Linked DNA regions of Homo sapiens: regions 1, 2 and 3 are each reported to be linked to region 4. The links are microRNA targets in miRTarBase. Many come from high-throughput screens and were not tested one by one. Region 4 holds a microRNA gene; each other region holds the end of a gene's coding sequence.

What was found. The annotated mature microRNA hsa-miR-4795-5p reads AGAAGUGGCUAAUAAUAUUGA and lies in region 4 at 3,608-3,628, shown strand. An mRNA with a match to its seed (bases 2 to 7 or 8) in the 3' UTR can be bound and repressed. Matches are read on the target gene's strand: a 7mer-m8 pairs with bases 2 to 8, a 7mer-A1 pairs with bases 2 to 7 and ends in A, and an 8mer does both.
Region 1: the mRNA of LRIG2 is a reported target of hsa-miR-4795-5p. Seed matches in the 3' UTR shown: 7mer-A1 at 4,222-4,228.
Region 2: the mRNA of NRXN3 is a reported target of hsa-miR-4795-5p. Seed matches in the 3' UTR shown: 7mer-m8 at 4,370-4,376.
Region 3: miRTarBase lists FOXO3 as a target of hsa-miR-4795-5p. The part of its 3' UTR that is shown has no 7-base or 8-base seed match.

Annotation. Positions count from the first base shown.
Region 1 is chr1:113,123,334-113,128,333 of GRCh38, reverse strand. LRIG2 (leucine rich repeats and immunoglobulin like domains 2) reads right to left here. Exons shown (of 18, transcript NM_014813.3): 18 at 1-4,459. The coding sequence ends at 4,233. It also overlaps the pseudogene RLIMP2. Among named protein-coding and RNA genes, the nearest start is that of LRIG2, 53 kb to the right of the region's middle.
Region 2 is chr14:79,861,440-79,866,642 of GRCh38, reverse strand. NRXN3 (neurexin 3) reads right to left here. Exons shown (of 21, transcript NM_001330195.2): 21 at 1-5,203. The coding sequence ends at 4,679. Among named protein-coding and RNA genes, the nearest start is that of NRXN3-AS3, 230 kb to the right of the region's middle.
Region 3 is chr6:108,664,018-108,669,220 of GRCh38, reverse strand. It overlaps FOXO3 (forkhead box O3), which reads right to left. Exons shown (of 3, transcript NM_001455.4): 2 at 4,332-5,203. The coding sequence ends at 4,366. Among named protein-coding and RNA genes, the nearest start is that of LINC00222, 85 kb to the left of the region's middle. RefSeq lists a silencer at 4,624-4,824.
Region 4 is chr3:87,224,699-87,229,867 of GRCh38, reverse strand. MIR4795 (microRNA 4795) reads left to right here and starts at 3,591; the gene lies at 3,591-3,679. CHMP2B (charged multivesicular body protein 2B) reads right to left here and starts at 2,559. Exons shown (of 6, transcript NM_014043.4): 1 at 2,312-2,559. The coding sequence starts at 2,345. RefSeq lists enhancers at 2,348-2,467, 2,538-2,607, 2,658-2,707, 2,798-2,857, 2,968-3,107.

The DNA of each region.
Region 1 (5,000 bases), not on the chromosome of region 4:
ATAATCTAGTAAGAAAGGAAGAAGAGGGATCGCAGATTGAAGGGATAGGAAATTGTGATCTTTAGGAAGTTCAAAGTGAAAATGATCAGAGGCTGACATAGTAAAGACATAAAAAGGTGTGGCAGTACTAAACAGCTCAAGAAGTGCTGCTGCCCATGGGAGAACACTTAGGATTGAAAATAAGTATGAATAAATGCTCAACTTTCTGGCAAAAAGTTGAGAAATTATGTGAGTTTGGAACCCTTGAACCAGGACTTAAAAATAGATATTTTTATTTAAGTGGCTGAAATTATCTAGTGAGTAATATTGGATTTAGAAGAGAGAACTGGACAGGAAGTGTAAGGAAATCTGAAAGCACAAAGAAAGAATTACATTGCATTAGAGTGTGAAGTTATTTACCTAAAGCTCTTTGGTATCAGAAATTCAAGAAAATTTTTGGCTTAATCACTTGTATAAAATAAGGACCGGCCGGGCTCGGTGGCTCACGCCTGTAATCCCAGCACTCTAGGAGGCCGAGGCGGGTGGATCACCTGAGGTCAGGAGTTCGAGGCCAGCCTGACCAACATGGAGAAACCCCGTCTCTACTAAAAATACAAATAAAATTAGCCGGGCATGGTGGTGCATGCCTGTAATCCCAGGTACTTGGGAGGCTGAGGCAGAAGAAGGGCTTGAACTCGGGAGGCAGAGGTTGCAGTGAGCCGAGATTGTGCCACTGCACTCCAGTCTGGGTGACAGAGCGAGACTCCGTCTCAAAAAAAAAAAAATAAGGACCACTACAAGGCTTTACAGTATAAGAATTTTGGGGCCAGGCAAGTGGCTCATGCCTGTAATCCCAGCACTTTGGGAGGCCAAGGCAAGCAGATCACCTGAGGTCAGGAGTTCAAGACCAGCCTGGCCAACATGGTGAAACCCCATCTCTACTAAAAATATCAAAAAAAAAAAAAAAAAAAAAGCTGGAAATGGTGGTGTGCCTGTAATCCCAGCTACTTGGGAGGCTGAGGCAAGAGAATTGCTTGAACCTGGGAGGCGGAGGTTGCAGTAAGCCAAGATCATGCCACTGCGCTCCAGCCTGGGTGACCGAGAGGGACTCCATCTCAAATAATAATAAAGAAAAAAGAATGTTTGCATGTTCTTCTACTCCCAAGAGCACTCTTCCCTTCTTAAGATATACTGCACATTGGTAAAAGATTAAAAACAAAACAAACTTGGAAAAGAAGCAATCTTTGGTTTCCTGGTCAATGAAGAACTTTGCTGAAAGAAGATATTCCCATTCAGAGAAAGCACAAAGTGAACACAACTAGAAACAACTGAAACTCAGTCTGGTATTTCAATACTGTGTCATAACAGCCAGACAACTTTCCAGCTGTTCTTCAAGACAGAAAACTCAGATTCTGACAATGAAGAAGATGGATGTGGCCCAGTGCAGAAGTCGGATGGACAAATGGTTCCAGAAGCTTTCTACTTGCAAATAACCTGAGTGATGAAGATTACAGGCTTATGAGTGATAACAATTTGCTAGGCACTATAGGTGAAGTACAGAAGAGTTGCTGAGAAGGTTACAACAAATTAAAGAGGATTCCCCACAAGAATCAGGTGAAAACAGAGGTGGATGACGTCTAGCACTAGTAATGGGTCTGTAATAAAGTGGCTTACCTCTTTTGGGCAAACTGAAAATATGACAGGAAGTAAGCAAAGAGAAAACCAAGCTTGGACAGCAGTGAGCCAGAGTAATCCATATAGTGGTAATTTCAGATTCAATGTAGGGATCAATTTTATCCTTAATAATGGAAGGCTGAATACAGAAAATGAATATGCATCATCTGCAAGATTTCCCAGGGGAGAAAATAGGGAAAACAGAGGAAAGTGGAAAATCCACAATCTGAGTCAACATTTGCAAGGCCACCTAGGTCAGGTACAAAGTGCGACAGAAGTATTAATGAAAGTTCCACTTACCAGAGGTCAGAGAAGACTGAGAAGCAGGAGCCCAGACCAATGGAGAACCAGAGCGAGAAATAAAAGTAGGTTCCCTCCAAATTCATGGTGAGAAATTTCACAAATATTTCATGATAATATACATCTCAGACTTTTGAATGACCCCTGGTAAATGAGACAGAGATTTTCTAGAACTCAGCAACATGAGACATTGAGAGAGCAAATAACTGACCCATAGTTGCAAAGTGGCATGTTTTTGTAGCTTTTGGAACATGGAATGCCTTTCCAGGAAAACGTTCTCCAGACACAATCAGAAATGGTGAATCTGGGGCACTGAGACTGAGAAATCCAGTCATAGTCCTGATTGTGATAGTAGGAAGAGTTCATCATGGGGAATATTTGCCAAGATATAGCACACCTAATAGAACCCAGTTAACATCTCCAACACCAAACAACAGTCACTTTAGAAAGTGAACAAAGAGAACTCAGAAATAATATTTTCACATTCTGAGCAAGCAGGTGTGAGCACCTATTTCACTACCAAAAGAATTCCTGTTCACAGAATTTCAAATACTCATTTAAATAATACACCTGTTGCAACTCAAAGAGCATTAAAGCAGACAATGACAAGATTTGCAGACTCAAATATGGACAGTGATAGTGATTTGTATCCTAGCGGCTCACCCCAGTCAGAACATGGCAAGAGCAAAGTCACAGAATGAAAGAGATGGTTCTGATATCAGCAACTGTTCTGGCTCCAATTCATGTCACAGTACTGCTTATGAGTCTGACTCAAGTTCTGCAATCTTTAAATCAGCCTCCAGTTTTTGAAGCGTTCATTATACATAAAGTAACAACCCGATCTAACTCATTGGTTCCTGAAGGAATGACTGAACCTTCCTCAATCAATTTCTGTTTCAGTAAAAAAAAAGAGGGAAGGAGGGAGAGGGGGAGGAAATGAAAGGAATTTCCAAACAAGTTTTCCTCTAGGTGCATACAGCTGTGACAGGACTGCCAGGCTCTGAAAGAACAAGCTTTTTATGTTAGAAAGGGAGTATCACCTAGCACTTTTAAACAGATGGCAAATGACCAGAAGTATGAACCTCTAGGCATGAAGAAGGCGGTTAATTACACCAAGACTGTGTTTATGTGTATACAATCACTAAGTAGCTGCCTCTATAGATACACTTCTTAACAAGTAAGTTTTTAAAACTTTTTATTTATTTATTTTACTTTTGAGCCAGGGCCTCACTCTGTCACCCAGGCTGGGATGCAGTGGCTTCACACAGCTCACTGCAGCCTTGATTTCCCGGGCTCAAGTGACCCTCCCACCTCAGCCTCCCAAGTAGCTAGGACTACAGCAGCATGCCACAATGTCCACCTATTTTTTTAATTTATTTTTTTGCAGACACAGGGTCTCACCATGTTGCCCAGCCTGGTCTCAAATTCCTGGCCTCAAGCAATCCTCCCACCTTAGCCTCTCAAAATGCTGGGATTACAGGTGTGAGCCACAGTTTTTATACTTTAAATAAAATTTTTAGATCTCACTAAATTGAGTTATTTAAAATCTGTGATCTGAGAAGCTACTTGTCAATATTATAACTGGATATTACATATAATTTTGGCATATCAAAAATATTTACATTGCAGCCAACACATATGGTCAATGAATACAAAAATTATTTATAAATGCACATATATTTACAATGACATCCCTGGGCAATAGGGACAAAAAAAAAAATTCACAAGAATACAAAAATCTTTGACCTGGTACCAGTTGGTCAAGCCTGGGATTCTTGCCAAAGACCTTGAATATCAAAGCCCCAGTCTCAACTATCTGCCTGAAACCACTGAAGAATCCCAGGCACACTTCCCAGAAGGCTCCAAAGTTATTTTTGCTCCTTGGAAAGCAAAGTAGAACATCGAAGTAGTGATGTTTTCTCAGGACCATTCTGAAGACTAGGGCAATCCAGCATGTTAAGCAGCAATGTGACTCTTCCTGACAAGCAGATGCACACCAGGGCACATCCCCATGGAAGCATCAGGAAGCACATTTGCCCCGTATCTTCCCTCTGCCGGTGCTGCACATTTTTGATGAGCTGTACCCATTTCTGTCAGCTGTTGCCATTTCTTCATCAGGTATAAGACCAAACAACGCATGGCCCACCTTGGTGCGGTCAGATGCAATCATAAAGAAAGAGTAAAGCAAATGCTGACTTCGGAGTTTCTTCTGAGCTCTGAGGTAGTAAATGCAAAATTAATTAATAAGTCTCTGCCCAGATTTCATCCTGAAGTGAGTTTCATGTGCCCTCACTACCATCTTGAATGTTCCGAGTCCTACTAAAATCAAAAGCATGATCCTGTAACCTGTGGCAGGACATGGAAGAAGCAGAACAGTCTGGCTCTCTCCCTGCCAGGCCCTCATTTTGATGAAGTTGTGGTGACTCATGGACTGGCTGCTGGGAAAAAGGAGGATGAGGCAGGCCTAGTTCTCTGTTTATGTTCCACACGGGCCGCTGCAATGTTTCTGAGAATGAAAGACAAGAATTATCAGTAGTGACTGGTAAAACTTAATATCCTTTTAGCCAAATCCTCAAAGAAATAAAGATGTTCAATATTCCTGAATAGGGACACTGAAATCACACACACACACACACACACACACACACACACAAAAACCACCACCAGAACATGGTCTTTCAAATCCCTCTACTTCACAAACCTAACCAATTATTTACTGAGATCATACTATATATCGTCTACTGTCACCTGTTATTTTAGCGATTCTGTTGCTACAAAATTTTTTATTTTATTTATTTATTTTTTTGAGATGGAGTTTCGCTCTTGTTGCCCGGGCTGGAGTGCAATGGCGTCATCTCGGCTCACCGCAACCTCCGCCTCCCGGGTTCACACAATTCTACTGCGTCAGCCTCCCAAGTAGCTGGGATTACAGGCATGTGCCACCATGCCCAGCTAATTTTGTATATTTAGTAGAGACAGGAGTTTCACCATGTTGGCCAGGCTAGTTTGAACTCCCAACCTCAGGTGATCCGCCTGCTTCAGCCTCC
Region 2 (5,203 bases), not on the chromosome of region 4:
TCAAGCTATTCTCCCATTTCTCTCTTCCCATTCATTGACATGATTTCAAAAACCTTCCTACTCATATCTTCCTCCAATGTACTTTTTGCAGTCTGTCATCAATCCAAATTATGGTTTTGATCCTGCTTGCTCCCACTTTAAGGGTTTGCTTAGAATGATATACAGCCCTTATTTCTGCCTATCAGTTTTCCAAGGTTTACCAAAATGTCACCCCTTCTATGAAGCCTTCCCTTACATAATTTCTTCTAAGCTCCCAACTTAGTTTGTACTTTTTGATAGCTTATTTGCATTCACTATAGTACCATTTTTTGTTCATCTTTACTAGATGATAAGCTCCCAAGGCTCTCAATTTAATATCCCATAATCATTTAGTAAATATTCAATAGACATTATCAAACTGATCTTAAACTATATAATCAAGATATTAGTTCAACTGGGACAAACACAGGGCTTGGATATTTTTTGGAGAAAGATCAAACTTCAATTTGAATATGAGCAAAGAGAGACTGGACCTGTATAGATTTATACAAGAGACAAAAAGGCTTAAAATCCTTCTAGCCATTTTCTGCCTTCATTGAAACAAAGTAACAATAGCCAATAGTAGACTAGCTTGTACATAAGTGTTCAATAAATGTTTCTTGAATTAAAGAAAAAGTGAATGCTTAAAGTAGTCCTAGAATTATATATTAGTGAGATTTAGAAAGATTTCAGGAGGAGTGGCTCACACCTATAATCCCAGCATTTTGCAAGGCCAAGGTGGGTGGATCACTTGAAGTAAGGAGTTCGAGACCAGCCTTGCCAACATGGTGAAACCCTTCCTTACTAAAAAAATAAAAAATAAATTAAAAAATGAGCTGGGTGTGGTGGCCCATGCCTGTAGTCGCAGCTACTCAGGAGGCTGAGGCAGGAGAATCGTTTGAGGTTGAGAGGCAGAGGTTGCAGTGAGCCAATATCATGCCACTGCACTGTAGGCTGCAAGACTCCATCTCAAAAAATGATGGGAGAACATCTAATACAGAACTTTGAAGACAGGAACAAAAAAAAAACTTTACATAATTTGACATCACTGAACCTGACTTTCTCCCCCCCATTCCTAACATAGTCGATAGTATAACCACTCCACTAATGTTATCTTGAAGGCACAGGCTTAACTAAATATATATTTTTAAAATTCTAACTCTTTGAAAACTGGTAACCAACATATGGATAAAGGACAGCTGTTCAGTTAAATCTATATTTCTAGATTACAGTGAAGAACAAAGGGTAGATGGATTATCCAATTGGCCAAGTAAGTGTGTGCTGAGAGAACGAGAAATATGAGACATTACTGCTACAATGGGTGTATGAAACAAGTTGTAATCAGAAATTCTTGTAAGAAGCTGTTAAAATTGAAGAACTCATTTAAATTTTGGTTTTGGATTCTGTTTTTTAATTTTAAATTTTAATATGGTGGGAGGCTTGGAAAGAAGACATCTAAGACTTTCTAGTGCTTATGGCACTATGTGAACATAGTTTTAAATACTGTTTAAAGCTTGTTGACTTATAGAAAATACGTAAAAGGTACGAAATGCCTTTAAAAAACATAGTATCCAAGCCGGGCGCGGTGGCTCACGCCTGTAATCCCAGCACTTTGGGAGGCCGAGGCGGGTGGATTACGAGGTCAGGAGATCGAGACCATCCCGGCTAACACGGTGAAACCCCGTCTCTACGAAAAATACAAAAAATTAGCCGGGCGTGGTGGCGGGCACCTGTAGTCCCACCTACTCGGGGGGCTGAGGCAGGAGAATGGTGTGAACCCGGGAGGCGGAGCTTGCAGTGAGCCGAGATCGTGCCACTGCACTCCAGCCCGGGCGACAGAGCGAGACTCTGTCTCAAAAAAAAAACAAACAAAAAACGAAAAACAAAAAACAAAAACAAACAAACAAAACCATAGTATCCAATAATCTTTTCTAGAATACAATGTTTCTATCATCTTTCCAGAAAAATGCACTCCCTCCTGGTTATTCTATCATAGCAATCTAAAAAATAATGCCTCAAGTAACAGATAATTATCTCATAAATATGGCATTTTGATAATGTAATAATTAGTAACTGCTTAGAATATCTTCTATCACATGAAAGTGGTCTAGCTCTTACTCGGCTTTTAATAAGATATGACATAATTAGCTTCAGTGCGAGATTTTCTCAAATGTTAAGAAAATAAAAGTGCATCAGCATACAAGGTTTTGGGAAGAACATTTTATTGCTAAGCATATCCTTGAACGAAAATGCAAATATGAACTAAGAAAAGAAAAAAGAAAAAGCAGTAATGTCACAACATCATTAAATAAATTCCTTTAGGTTCTGCTAATAAAACAGGAATATGATAGAAGCTCACATAGAGAATGCACATGTTCCCATAAAATTGTCCAAATAGAAACTTACACTGAAAGGAATATAACAAATGTATTATTACTTAAATTGAAAAAAATGAAAGAAAGCAGGAAATCAATTCACAAGACCTCAAGACTCCAAGAACAGCAATCTTTTACAGACATCGAGATATAATCAACTTCGTATAGGCTGGGCCGTTTAGGTTATCTAAAATCGTGCTTTGATATCTCTTTATAATCCTGTCTTTTTTAATGATAACAAAAAAATTAAACTCTTAACACATTGAAATATTAGATAATGAGGAACACCTCTTTCCACACACATTAGTAAAGGCTACCATTTAGATTGCACTTTTTGCCCCATGTCGTTAAGATATTTTTTCAAAGTCAAATATTCATGCAACTTACAAAGACCAGCAAGAGTAGATTTCTAAATCTAAGCAGCTGATTGATTTTCATCTGTACAAAAGAAATTGTATATCTGACCCTCCAGAGGACACACTTCATTTTTGTGTGAATATTTGTCTTGCTTTGTCTCTTGCTTTTCGGATAGCTATGGCCATACAACCAGTTTATTGTTTTTCTGTACATTGTTTCCTCTTTACAAAAAGAAAAAGACAACCAGAATATAAACCAAACAGAAATAAACAGGAAAAAAACATTTCTTAAAGCAGTATGTACATAGGTGGCTAAGGAATTATACCAGCAAAAATGTAGTAAAATATGTAAACAAAATCTGAAGTTTTTTTTTTTAATTCTCTTTGACACAGTTAACTGTGACAAAACTAAAATTCACACTTTCTTCACATTTTAAGGTTTGCTTTTTTGTTGTTTTGCTATTTTCTTTTAAAACAACATTCTCATTCCATTTTAAGACTTTAACAGATTTCCTGTGTCAGTCATCCCATCAAACATACCATGATAAATATATCTGTATATATATTTATTTATATATATATTATACTATTAAATTCCTTTTGTGTGTGTGTCACAGCAGCTTTATTCATTTATTTGTTTTTAAAAAAGATGGGTGAAGAGAGAAGTGAGCAAATGGAAGGACAGAGTTATCCATAAATGTCAGGCTACAAAATTAAACCACTATGAAAACCATTGTCACATTCGGGGCGGGGAAAGAACTATGTGTTTTGTACTCTGGCATGACATGGTTGGCTTGTGTGACCTTTTGTGGTTCCATCACGAGTTGAACTCCCCTACTGTCTGGTTTGATAACAGACTTTAATATTGTCTTTTTTATTTGCATGCATTTCAATCAGTCACAGATCCAGCCCACCTCCCCTTCCTCTTCCCTAGGAAAGGCTGTTTTAGTTTGTGGGGCTTTCCTCTTTAACACAATTTGGCTGGGTGAATGGACAGGAACAATATTGTTACGTAAAGCCAATAGCTCTGATAACACCAGCCCTAAACCCATCTGTTCCGGGTTTGGGTGGTAAATTCTGAAATTAGATCCTGGGGGACCAGCTTTTCGAATCAATTTATCATCCGTCACATGAATTTTGCTATGTGTTCAGCAAAGCATCTTATAGGAAACAAACAACAGATTCTAGAGACACCATAACCTGATATGTAGAGTGAACACCATGATAGCTTTTGAGTTCATATGGCAATAGTCTCTCTCGCTTTTGTTTTGAGTTTTTTTCCTCTTCTGATGTCCAGTCATTATCAAAAAAATAAACAAAAACCCAAAAGCCATTTTTCCCCTCAGATCATAAAGTTACACGCACACTGGTCAGAACCAGATAAGGGTTGTGGGTTTTTTTTTTTGTTTGTTTTTGTTTTTTGGTGTTTTTTTCTTTTTTAACTTTTTTCTTTTTTTGTTGTTGTAGTTTTGTTTTTTACATAATTAAACAGAAAAAACATGGTTACAGTCAAGCTTCACAAACATTACAGACTCACTTGGAGTTATGGAACAAGTAAGCCATGAAGTCTTCTACCTTTTAGTAAAAGGTCCTCCGGAGAAGGAAGTTTCCAGGCCTGCGGAAGTGGTGGAGCCACCGTCCGGCTCCAGAGCGCTAAGTGTGTGCTTTATGATACAGCAGGGCACAAAACCTTCTGTCTCCCAGCGACCGCTGGGACCTTGCCGCAGCCGTGGCTGAGCTTTAGAGAGAGATGCATCGCTGTGTGTGTGTGTGTCCTTTAAAAAACGGTTTTCCCCACCAGAGTCGTGGTTATATACCCCATTTCATAGTTCCAGCAGTTCTGACATCTGTGAGATCTCACCGTCCAAAGATTCATAGGCGTGGATAGAAATAACTGTGAAAACTCGCGTGTGAGCAGTGTTCGCATGTTTACACGTAATACTCCCTGTCCTTGTTTTTCTGTTTCTTGTGGCCGCTCTTCGAGCTCTGCTGCTTCTCCTTCATGAGCGTGCCGTTGCTCTGGGCGGAGTTGCTGATGTAGTTCCGCGTCTCGTCCACTTGATAGGACCCCTCGTCCCTGTTCCTGTACTTGTACATGGCGTACAGGAGGATCAAGATGCAGAGGGCGGCAGCAGCCACAATGCCGACGACCATCCCTGTTGTGCTGCTCGACTCCCGGATCACCTCTGAGGCCCCCGGAACCCGTCTGATTCCCGGCTCCGTGGGGTTTGCTGTGGGCACATTACGGAACATGGGGGAAGTAATTAGTGGGCTCTTCAGTTTGGTGCTGTCTAGCTCATAGGCAGTGGGCAACGGAAGCAAGACTATATCAGGCTGGGGTTTGAGATCACGGTTATTCATTTTGCCAGCTGGCAATTTGGGCACCATCCCAGACGAGGAGGAAGCTGTGAAGCGGATCAGCTCAGGGGATAAAGATGTGGTAGTAGTCCTACT
Region 3 (5,203 bases), not on the chromosome of region 4:
CCACTATTTCTTTCTAGCTCTGTATCATAACATAGACTTCACCAGGTCCATTTCACAGACAAAATGTTAGGGTTCAAGTTTATTTAGTTTTTATTTTTTTTATTTTTTGAGACGGAGTCTTGCTCTGTCACCCAGGCTGCAGTGCAGTGGCGCAGTCTCAGCTCACTGCAAGCTCCGCCTCCTGGGTTCACGCCATTCTCCTGCCTCAGCCTCTCCGAGTAGCTGGGACTACAGGCGCCCGCCACCACGCCCGGCTAATTTTTTTGTATTTTTAGTAGAGACGGGGTTTCACCGTCTCGATCTCCTGACCTCATGATCCACCCGTCTCGGCCTCCCAAAGTGCTGGGATTACAAGCGTGAGCCACTGCGCCCGGTCTTCAAGTTTAAAATTATACATACTATGCACCTTTAAAACTTGATGAGGCTGTCTTCTTTTGACAAATGAGAAACCTAATATTCTACAAGATTGAGTGATGTGGCAGAGACAAGAAGTGAACCACCCCTCCCCTCTCCATCTGGGCTTTTGCTGGTGGATGCTTCCCAGTCTTTATGTAAAGTACTTTAAACTAAATATTGGGCTGCTCCCTAATGGTGTCTCCAAATGTCAAAAGATGAAGATGAATGAAAGTTTGTGAATGCAGGCATCTTTGATATCAAATTAAGGTGAGACTGAAGCTGGTTTCCCTCAGAGAGGACACATGTCGAACTCAAGAAGGCTTACCGGAAGCTCGAGCTTGCAGCACCACACCAGCTCATGACCATCTCTGCCACCAACTGTAAGCACATGCACCAAGCTTTATGAACACCTGAGAGAACACAGTGCCCTTCACGACCCAGCAGCCAGCCCTCCAAAAAAGTATGGCTATTTTTTCTTTTCCAGATAGACCTAAGGGTCAAAGAATTCTACACGTGGTCTAAAATGAATGACGTGTGAAACACCCAGCCCGCCAGAGAAGCATCTTGCTGCAGCTCCCCAGCAAGACTGCCTGTCAACTGAGCAGACCGCTCCATTAACACAAGGCGGCTCAGATTCAGCATCACATGACCTTCTTCTGTGAGCAAGCCAGGAATTCAGTCTGGAGAAACACTAAGAAGTTAAACCAAGAAAGTTATTAGAGAGCAACTCTTGGGAAGCTGGGACAGTTAATTTGAGAGAAGCAGGGTGTCAGAGTCTGACCTCAGCCTCGTTCTGTGAATTTAGGAGAGTCTTCAATGAAGTGACAGTCACAGTTAAGTTTTAAAGTAAAAAATACACTTCAGGTTGCATGTGCTCCTGGCTGCTGAAAGAACAATGGATTCTAAGCAAAAATGGAAATCCTAAACCAGAAACTAGATCCCCTCACAGCCCCCACTGTCCTTTGGATGGTTCTTTAAATGCTCTGTGGTCATACTGAGCTAGTCTACTTTCAGGAAAATTTGGTGACTTTTCATTTTTAGCTGAAGAAGTTATCTTCTCAAAACAACCTCCCCCAAAATATTCTGAGGCGAAGATGACCCTAAAGCTTCATTAGGATATAACAATGAAATGCATTATCCTCAATGCAGTCATTTATTATCATCACCAAAATCAGAGTTCACCAGATAAACTTTAAAAATCTAAGTATTTAGATCTCCCTTAATTTTCTGTACAATCCTTTAGAATTACACATATACGAGAAAGATCTGCTGTTCAACCAAAAGGGAAACCAACACTTGAAAAATCAGACAAAAACTGATACTACATTGTCTTCTGAACACATATTTTCCAACGAACTAGAAAGTGGCCTCCTTACAATTACACTCAAATTAAAACTTACTTGTGTCTTTAAAAGCCTATTTTTAAAGGAAGACAAACCATTTATTCTTTTAAAAGCCAAACATCTACATTTCTAAAGACAAATCTTCCATATTCTTCTCCTTAAAGGAAGACAAACTAGTCTTCTAAAGGCCAAATATCTACATTTCTGAAGTCAAATCTCCACTAGCCCAAGTTCTGGTATGGAACTGAGCTGGCTGGCATGGAAGTACTACCACCCTACTTAGCTTCCATTACAGTCTTTTCACCATCTCAAGGGCTATTAAATGACTGAAATCAGATATCTGAGTTCCATTAGGGGTCTCTTAGGCCTGAGAAAGTTGAGAGGCTTTAGCATCACAACACTCTTAACATTCCCCTTTCTGCAACCACCCGTGAGCTGGAGTGAGCTCACCATAGGAGACCCTTGTTAAGTCCTTCATCATGGCAGAGGGTTAAACAAGGCTCAAGTTTTTACAGCTTTGAATTCCCTTGCTTTTTACACCACTTAAAGAAGCCTGTAAGTAGCTTGCTGAGACTAAAACAAAACAAAGCAAAAGGGCTGGGGCACGGAACAGAACCTGTTAACATCGAGGTGGCTAGGGGTGCAAACCTGTTGGTAGAAGATCCCAGTGTTCATCTTACTTCTTGAGGAGGAGAGTTTTTAGGGAAAGCTTGTCTATCATCTGCTACTTTGACTCCAGTTCAGGGCACTTCCCTCCCCTCCCCGCTTTTTTTCTAACCAGCTAGAGAGAATAAGGAAGAACTACTATGGGGGTTCAAGCCATTTAAGAAATGAATCTAGGCCGGGCACGGTGGCTCACGCCTGTAATCCCAGCACTTTGGGAGGCTGAGGCGGGCGGATCACAAGGTCAGGAGATCGAGACCATCCTGGTGAACACAGTGAAACCCCATCTCTACTAAAAATTAAAAAAAAAAAAAAATTAGCCAGGCGTGGTGGCGGGCGCCTGTAGTCCCAGCTACTCAGGAGGCTGAGGCAGGAGAATGGCGTGAACCTGGAAGGTGGAGCTTGCAGTGAGCCGAGATCGCGCCACTGTACTCCAGCCTGGGAGACAGAGCAAGACTCCATCTCAAAAAAAAAGAAAAAGAAAAAGAAAAAAAAAGAAATCAACCTAGCTCTGTAACCTTGGGCAAACTACTTAACCTCTCTGGGCTACCTGCTTGCCCATTTGTCAGTATACCTAGTTGCATGGTACATATTTCAGCCTACTGCAGTTTCACATGCTTTAGTGCATTTGATTCTTGTAATAACCCTGTGAAGTAATGGGGGCTATTATCCTCATTTTATAAAACTGGAAGTTGAGACTCAGAGACCTAAGACACAACCATAGTGGTAGCAAGAAAGTGGTAGAAGTGGGCCTGAACCTCAATTCCTGATTTCAATCAAATGCTTTTTCTTACATCACACTGCCTGATCTTTGTGGTTCTGAGAACATTAAAATGCCACAATTGAAAAAATCTCCATCACCATTCACAACCTGTGTCACTCTATGTTTGGAAACTGCTGATATCATTTATAGTTTGGTGAACAAGCAGAAGCACACGAGTAAGTACTCCCTCATACAAACACCTGTGTTTTCAAATTAATTTTTTGGCTTTTTTTTTTTTTTTTTCTAAGAGATAGGTTCTTGCTTTACCACCCAGGATGGAGTGCAGTGGCACGATCATGACTCACTGCAGCCTCAAACTCCTGGGCACAAGGGATTCTCCTGAGAAGCAGGGGCTACAGGTATGTGTCACCACACCCAGCTAATTTTTTAAGTTTTCTGTAGAGACAGAGTCTTGCTATGTTGCCCATGCTGGTCTCTGACTCCTAGCCTCAAGCAATTCCTGCTTCAGTCTCCCATAGTTGTGGGATTATAGGCGTGAGACACTGTGCCTGGCCTCTTACTTTTTTAAAGGTTTAGCTCTTGAGTGCTAGCTAATAAAGATGCTTAGTACTAAGATAAAGAATAATTAACAGATTTTGCTTCTGTTAGAAATATTCATATATGAAAGAGTCTAGAATACATATTCTGCAGGCAAATTAGAAGTACCTGCCGATCATTACTTTACAAGGAAAAAAAGATGAAGAACATGTAACACTGAAGATTGACAAAAGCGGTGACGGACCAGAGAGTCTTTCTAGGAAAGCCCTTTGGCTGGGATCCTTAACCCTGAAGTACGACCCAAGCTTCCCATCCCTCTCCTTCTCTTCTCATCCATCCATCAAGTAGGGCAACCTGCGTCACAGGCCAGTGAGGACAACTGGATGCAAAAAAAGAATGCGATCTCTGAATGCGTACGTGTTCTCTTCACGAGCAGTAGATTTCTGAACTATCAGCAAACTGTGCGGGGGAAGGGGGGCACCTGACAGCCCTATTTGGTTTGCAGGTAAAACCCTGAGATGGAACTGGCTGGGAGCCATATTATGTGCACCACTGCTCCATGGTTTTCAGTGTGGAATAAAGTTCAAAGTAAAGAGAAGACAGGCTCCCCCAGAGATCCCCCCTCATCCCCATATTGTTATTTTTATGCCATAGCATTCGGCACTGACCTGCTTTGCCCACTTCCCCTTCCTCAGTGATCCTTCAGCCTGGCACCCAGCTCTGAGATGAGGCCTGCTTAGCACCAGTGAAGTTCCCCACGTTCAAACCAACAACATTCTGTGTGGAGATGAGGGAATCAAAGTTAAAATCCAACCCATCAGCATCCATGAGTTCACTACGGATAATGGACTCCATGTCACATTCCAAGCTCCCATTGAACATGTCCAGGTCCAAGTCGCTGGGGAACTTCTCATGGCCCATGACGGGCAGGTTTGCACTAGTTGAGTACAAGGAGGAGCCTGAGAGAGAGTCCGAGAGGGTTTGCATAGACTGGCTGACAGGAGACTGCTGCTGGTGTTTGGCTGACCCAAGGCTGCTGGACTCACTCAAGCCCATGTTGCTGACAGAATTCGACAAGGCACGGCTGCCACCAAGAGCGCCCTGGGTTTGGTGCTGGTGGTGGAGCAAGTTCTGATTGACCAAACTTCCCTGGTTAGGCTGGGCAGCAAAGGACATCATCGGATCATTGCGAAGCATCACGTTCCGGCGGGAATTCTGGGCAGACACAGCGGTGCTGGCCTGAGACATCAAGGGGTCCGACTGTGTCATCATGACATCGCTGTGGCTAAGTGAGTCCGAAGTGAGCAGGTCCTGGAGTGTCTGGTTACCATAGTGTGACATGGAAGAGAAGGTAGCTGGCTTGTTCTCTTGGATGGTCTGCATGGGAGACTGGCGTAGGGAGTTCAGAGATGAAGGTCCGAACACCGTGCTGTTAAAGGAGCTGGTTGGGGAGCCCAGGCCCGAGCCCTTGGTGGTATACGGGAAGCTAGAGCTCCGCTGCATGAGTCCCCCAGTGGGCGATGGCTGGGATGGCGGGAGC
Region 4 (5,169 bases):
CTTCCTTTTAAATTTACATGTGCAGTAGTCTTTAATGATACAGTATATAACTCTTCCAGCCAATCCAAACAGGAAAAAAGATTCAATTATTCCCCAGATCTATAGGCAGGTACATGTTTCCCTTATATATCAGAATTTCATTACTGCTGGAACAGATTTAAAAGTCAGCATACAATAAAAGAGCTCATGATCAATCCAACGATCTGAGAGACATAAAAATACATTAAACTTCATATTCATAATATACAGCCTCATTACCAAGAAGAATGCTGTCACCTTTTAGACAAAACAAAAAAAAACTTCCTTTCAATAAAACAGGGAATAAAAAAAGTAAAGCTCTATATCAAAATAACGAAAATACAGATCTATTTATTAAGATGTCAGTAAATGACTGGAATTGACACAATAATATAAGAAAACATCAAGTATGCATCTTGGTAGTTTATAGTAAATGTACCTGCTGGCCAAATTTACATTTGGAAATTGCACATATGGTTAATTTAGTGGCATAGTTCCTAGCAAGAGTCCTTAAGACTCTTTTACAAATAAGTCTATTCAGCAAAAACATTATTTCTTGGAAGAATTAACTGCAAATGAGTATACAGTTAAACACTCATTGCACATCCCCATTGTCTTTTTTTCTCTCCTCTACACTTCAAGTACAATAGTCACTAAATTTCCAAAAGCACCAGGAAGCACAGAACTGAGATTTATGTCTTTGAAAATATTTGACAGGTATTAGGCGATTAAAACTAGTATGCTTGGCTTTTATTGTTAAAAAAAAATTAACTCTAATTGTAACATCACAGTAAAGGAGATGAAACCATTTTTTCTCCATTTAGTAAATTCTCACTATATAAAACTAAACAACAAAAAAAAACTGTAACTATATAAAACTCAAGCAAAAAGAAAATAAATCGTTCCCCCACCCCCACTCCCTGGAGTACTGTAAAATAAGTGAAGCTCACAACAGTGGCAGCTAAAACACTGAAAAAATAAAGTGCCATATTAAAGATTAAGCAGCATTCTCATGAAAAGCACACATAAAATCCATTTCACATCACTGTATCACCTAATATACGAAGTTGGTAGTTATTCCAGGTATTGCAAATGGTACTTAATAAAAAGTCAATAAATCAAAAAAATGTTCAGTCACCCAGAGTAAGGAAAAATGTATTATGTCATCTGATAAATTAGAGGTAAAGTAGATTATGTGTTGAAATGAAGTGTACAGCAGCAGAGCAGAGATGACTTCTTTGTTATCCTCCCCAAAATAATTTTGCTGGCATTGGAATAGTCAACACAAAGGAATGAAGGAGTTACGTCCAGGTCTGGACTGAGCACCCTATTTGTACCAATCACTGTCTAGCTACCACTGCTCCTTTTGTGGCAGAATTAGACCCTTACAAAGAAGTGATTCTTTGGTTGAACCAGCAACAACCTAGACTAAACATATAATGGGGAACACAATTTTTAAATAACTTGAATGAATTTAATTCCTGGTAGCAATCAATGAAAACATCAAGTGTTATATAAACACATTATAGGCATCGCATATGAGCACCATAAAACTTGTACATTCCTTTACATTCACTTTTTTCCCCGCTTAAGATGATATTAAGCTAAATGCGGGAAACAACACAATTATCTTTACATGTTAAACTTCTATGAAGACAATATATACCCCATCTCTTTCTTTAGTTGGCAAAAAATAATCATAAGGGAGAAAAATCCATTATGAAAACTAAATCTGGGCACTTCCCTTGGGTTTATTTTTCTACTGGGGTTAATCAAAAAAGCATTTGTTTCACATCTCTTTACTGATGGGGTGTTCTTAAAGAAGCAACTGACCCAGACCCAACTTCATTTCCTAACTGGAGCCTGTTATCCCCTCCCTCCCCATTCCGAGACTGCCAGTTTCCTGTATGGATGCCTACAAGTAGTATATCGCCCAACTGAAGAGCAACAATCGAAGCAGAGGAAACCAACAAGAAATCCATCAGATTTCCAAGTTTATTGACACTCAAGGGCCAGCTAGCCTCCTCGAAACGCTCAGGATCCTGCTGAGGAAAACCCGAGGGTGGGGGAATCGTGAGGATAGGGAAGCAACCAGACTGCCTAGGTGAGCCTAAGGTGAGGTGAGTCAGAAGCAAGAGGGAGGCAGAGAAGTGGTGCCGCGAGGGCGGTCACCTGTGGGACCACTTGATCCAGCCCCGCCTCCAGGGACAGTAGGCAGAATCGCGGCCAGCAGGCCTCGAAAGACGCCGAGAAAACGCAGAGCTGGGCCCCTTCAGCCCGGCCTGGAACTCACCATCCACGGTTTTCTTCTTGAAGAGGGACGCCATGGTTAAAGACTGCGCCCGGGCGGCCCGGCTCGGCCCGGTCCGGCCCAACGCTGGCAAAGGACAGGAGGAAAAGGACAGGACCTTGGCGGGTTCGGGGTGGCGGAGCGGAGAGACAGCAGGAGGAGGTCGGGGTCGCCAGGCAGGACCCGCGGAAGGCTTGTATCCGCAGCTACCGCAGCCGCGTCACCCGGAGCTCAGGTGACCGGGAACTAACACACTTTTTGGAGAAGTCACTTCTAGGCGGCGCCTGCGCGTTGTGTGGCGCCTGCGCACTACGGAGTTTGAAGCCGCGGCCGCTTTCCTCACGTCTGCGGCTGCCAGTTCCTCCTGCACCGGGAGTTGGCAGCGGGGCGAGTCTGGAGCTGGCGGGGATAGGAGAGCGTGGGGCCACGGCTTCTGTGCGCGGGTTGGGTGATGATTGAGGACAGTGATCAGCCTTGCTTAGCGCTTCACCCCTTGCCCCGGGGAAAGCTGGATGAGGGATCTCCGGGCTCCTAGACTAAGTGTGGGTTGTCCCGGAACCGCCTGTACCCACTCCGAGTTGATTTATTACGGTCCCATTGCTGTTAGTATTTTTGTTGTTGTTGTTGTTGTTGTTTGTTTGTTTTTACTCGAGTAATCCAGGAACTGGCGGAAACGTTGAGTTCCGTACCCGGTGATTGTTGGCCCCTGGAGTTCGCGGTCCTTTCGGCACTGACTGACTCGGCGACCTCCCCCGCACCGCGCAGACCCCTGCAGGACCCTAGCCGCTCACCTGCCGCCCCCGGCTCCAGACTCCGACGACCCAGCGTGGGTCTCCGGGGATCCAGTGTCTAGAGTTGGGGGGGTCTCGAGGACGAAGGGAAGTTTTTTAATGCTACACTTTTTGTTTAAGGTTCTTGCCTGGAAACATTAAAACACACACACACACACACACACACACACACACACACAAATTTGTAGGCTGGTCTAAATGTCTCCAGCTCTATTTCTTAATTTCTTGTAAATCATGAATCATAAAGTGTCATGGCTATACGGTGATCCTATTAGAATTCCTCACAGCCGTTTATTTGGGCTTTTTGTGAAAAACTGCATATCATGTTAAAGAAAAAATGTAATGAATTATTTAAAGAATCCTTGCATGTATAAAATGGAAAATACAACCTATGCGTGCGTACCTGTATATAGTCTCTACTGTTTAAAGCAACACTGCCTTCCACAGGATAAAAATAATGGTAGCATTTTTTTTTTCATAAATATTATCTCTGATATGGAAGAAATCCAGAAGTGGCTAATAATATTGACACTATAACAATAATGTCAATATTATTAGCCACTTCTGGATTTATGAATCATGTCTCAAGGATTATTATTTATGATAATCAGGCCAGCCTTTCCCATTTTTCCCCTCCTGAGATATCCAAGCCCTCATAGCCACTGATAATGCTGCTGCTGCTGCTAAAAGTTAGCTGAGAGTCTGTTCAAGAAAACTTTCTTAAGAATGACGTAGTAATATGCAAGATATAATTGTTTTGCTTCTCCTCAAGTTATTCTCGATATGGGAAGATGAAGTAAGGAAACATTAGGAAGACATGTAAGTGAGAAGATTTAGTCTCTGCACTCAAGACCGGGCCTTTTCTGGAGTGAGCTCTATGGCAGTTTGCCCTGGCTGTCTGTTGTAATGAATGGCATAGAGCTGTGCTTGAACGCATGAGAGGCAATAAGCTGTTATGTGTGTAGTAATCGTACTCCTCCCTGCTGCAGTCACCCTTGTTTTATTACTCCTATACAATCCCCCCCACTGACCCAATTGTAACAGTTGGGAAAATGCCAAAATACTTAGGAGCAACCATATGGAAGACCCTCCAAAAGTGCACAGCAGGAGCTAAAGACAGGGCTTGTTCATTACAATAAAGACAAAATAGAAATATTTACTATTTAAACTCAGTACTCTAATAGCTTGTTCTCCCATAGTTTGAAGAAGGCTGATATTCAGCTGATTGCACCAGTCTAGCTAGAGTCCATTCTGATTAGTTGGTGGCCACATTTCTCCTGTACACATTTTGTATTATTATATCGCTCCTTATTTAAAGGGCATGATACACTTAAATATATGTTGTTTTCTGGAGTATTTCATAACATAGTTTCCTCCTCTGAAACTGAAATATTTGCCATTTTTTCATCTTTGGGTACCTCGGGTTATAATTTGAATGGGTGCATTCTTCTCCTTGTTCAGCTTTTGAAGAAAGATAGCATAACATTGGAGAGTGCTGATTCTGGACACAGACTGCCCAGTTCTGTGACCAATTCTGTGACTTTTAAGTTTTAAGACCTAGGCCAGTTCACTGAAGCTCTCCGTGTTTCTTTCATCACATATGTGATAGAGATAACATTAGCCCACCTTTCATATATTAGGTTGGTACAAAAGTAATTGGCGAAAACCACAGTTACTTTTGCACCAACCTAATAGCTGTTGCAAGGATTAAATGAGTTAATATGTTAAACATTCAAAGTAGTGCTTGGCACGTAATGTCTTAGCCCCTCTGTGCAGCTACAACAAAATACCACAGACTGGGTAATTTATAAACAGTAGAAATTTATTTCTCACATTTGTGGAGGCTGGGGAGTCCAAGATCAAGGAACCCAGAGGTTTTGTTTCTGGTGAGAGCTGCTTTCTGCTTCCATGATGGTACCTTGCTGTTGCATCCTCAAGAAGAAAGAGATGCTGTATCCTCACATGGCAAGAAGGACAGAAGGGTAAAAGGGCGGTAGGCAGCTCCCTCACACCTGTTTTATAAAGGAACTAATCTCATTCATGAGGGCTCCACCCTCATGACTTAATCAC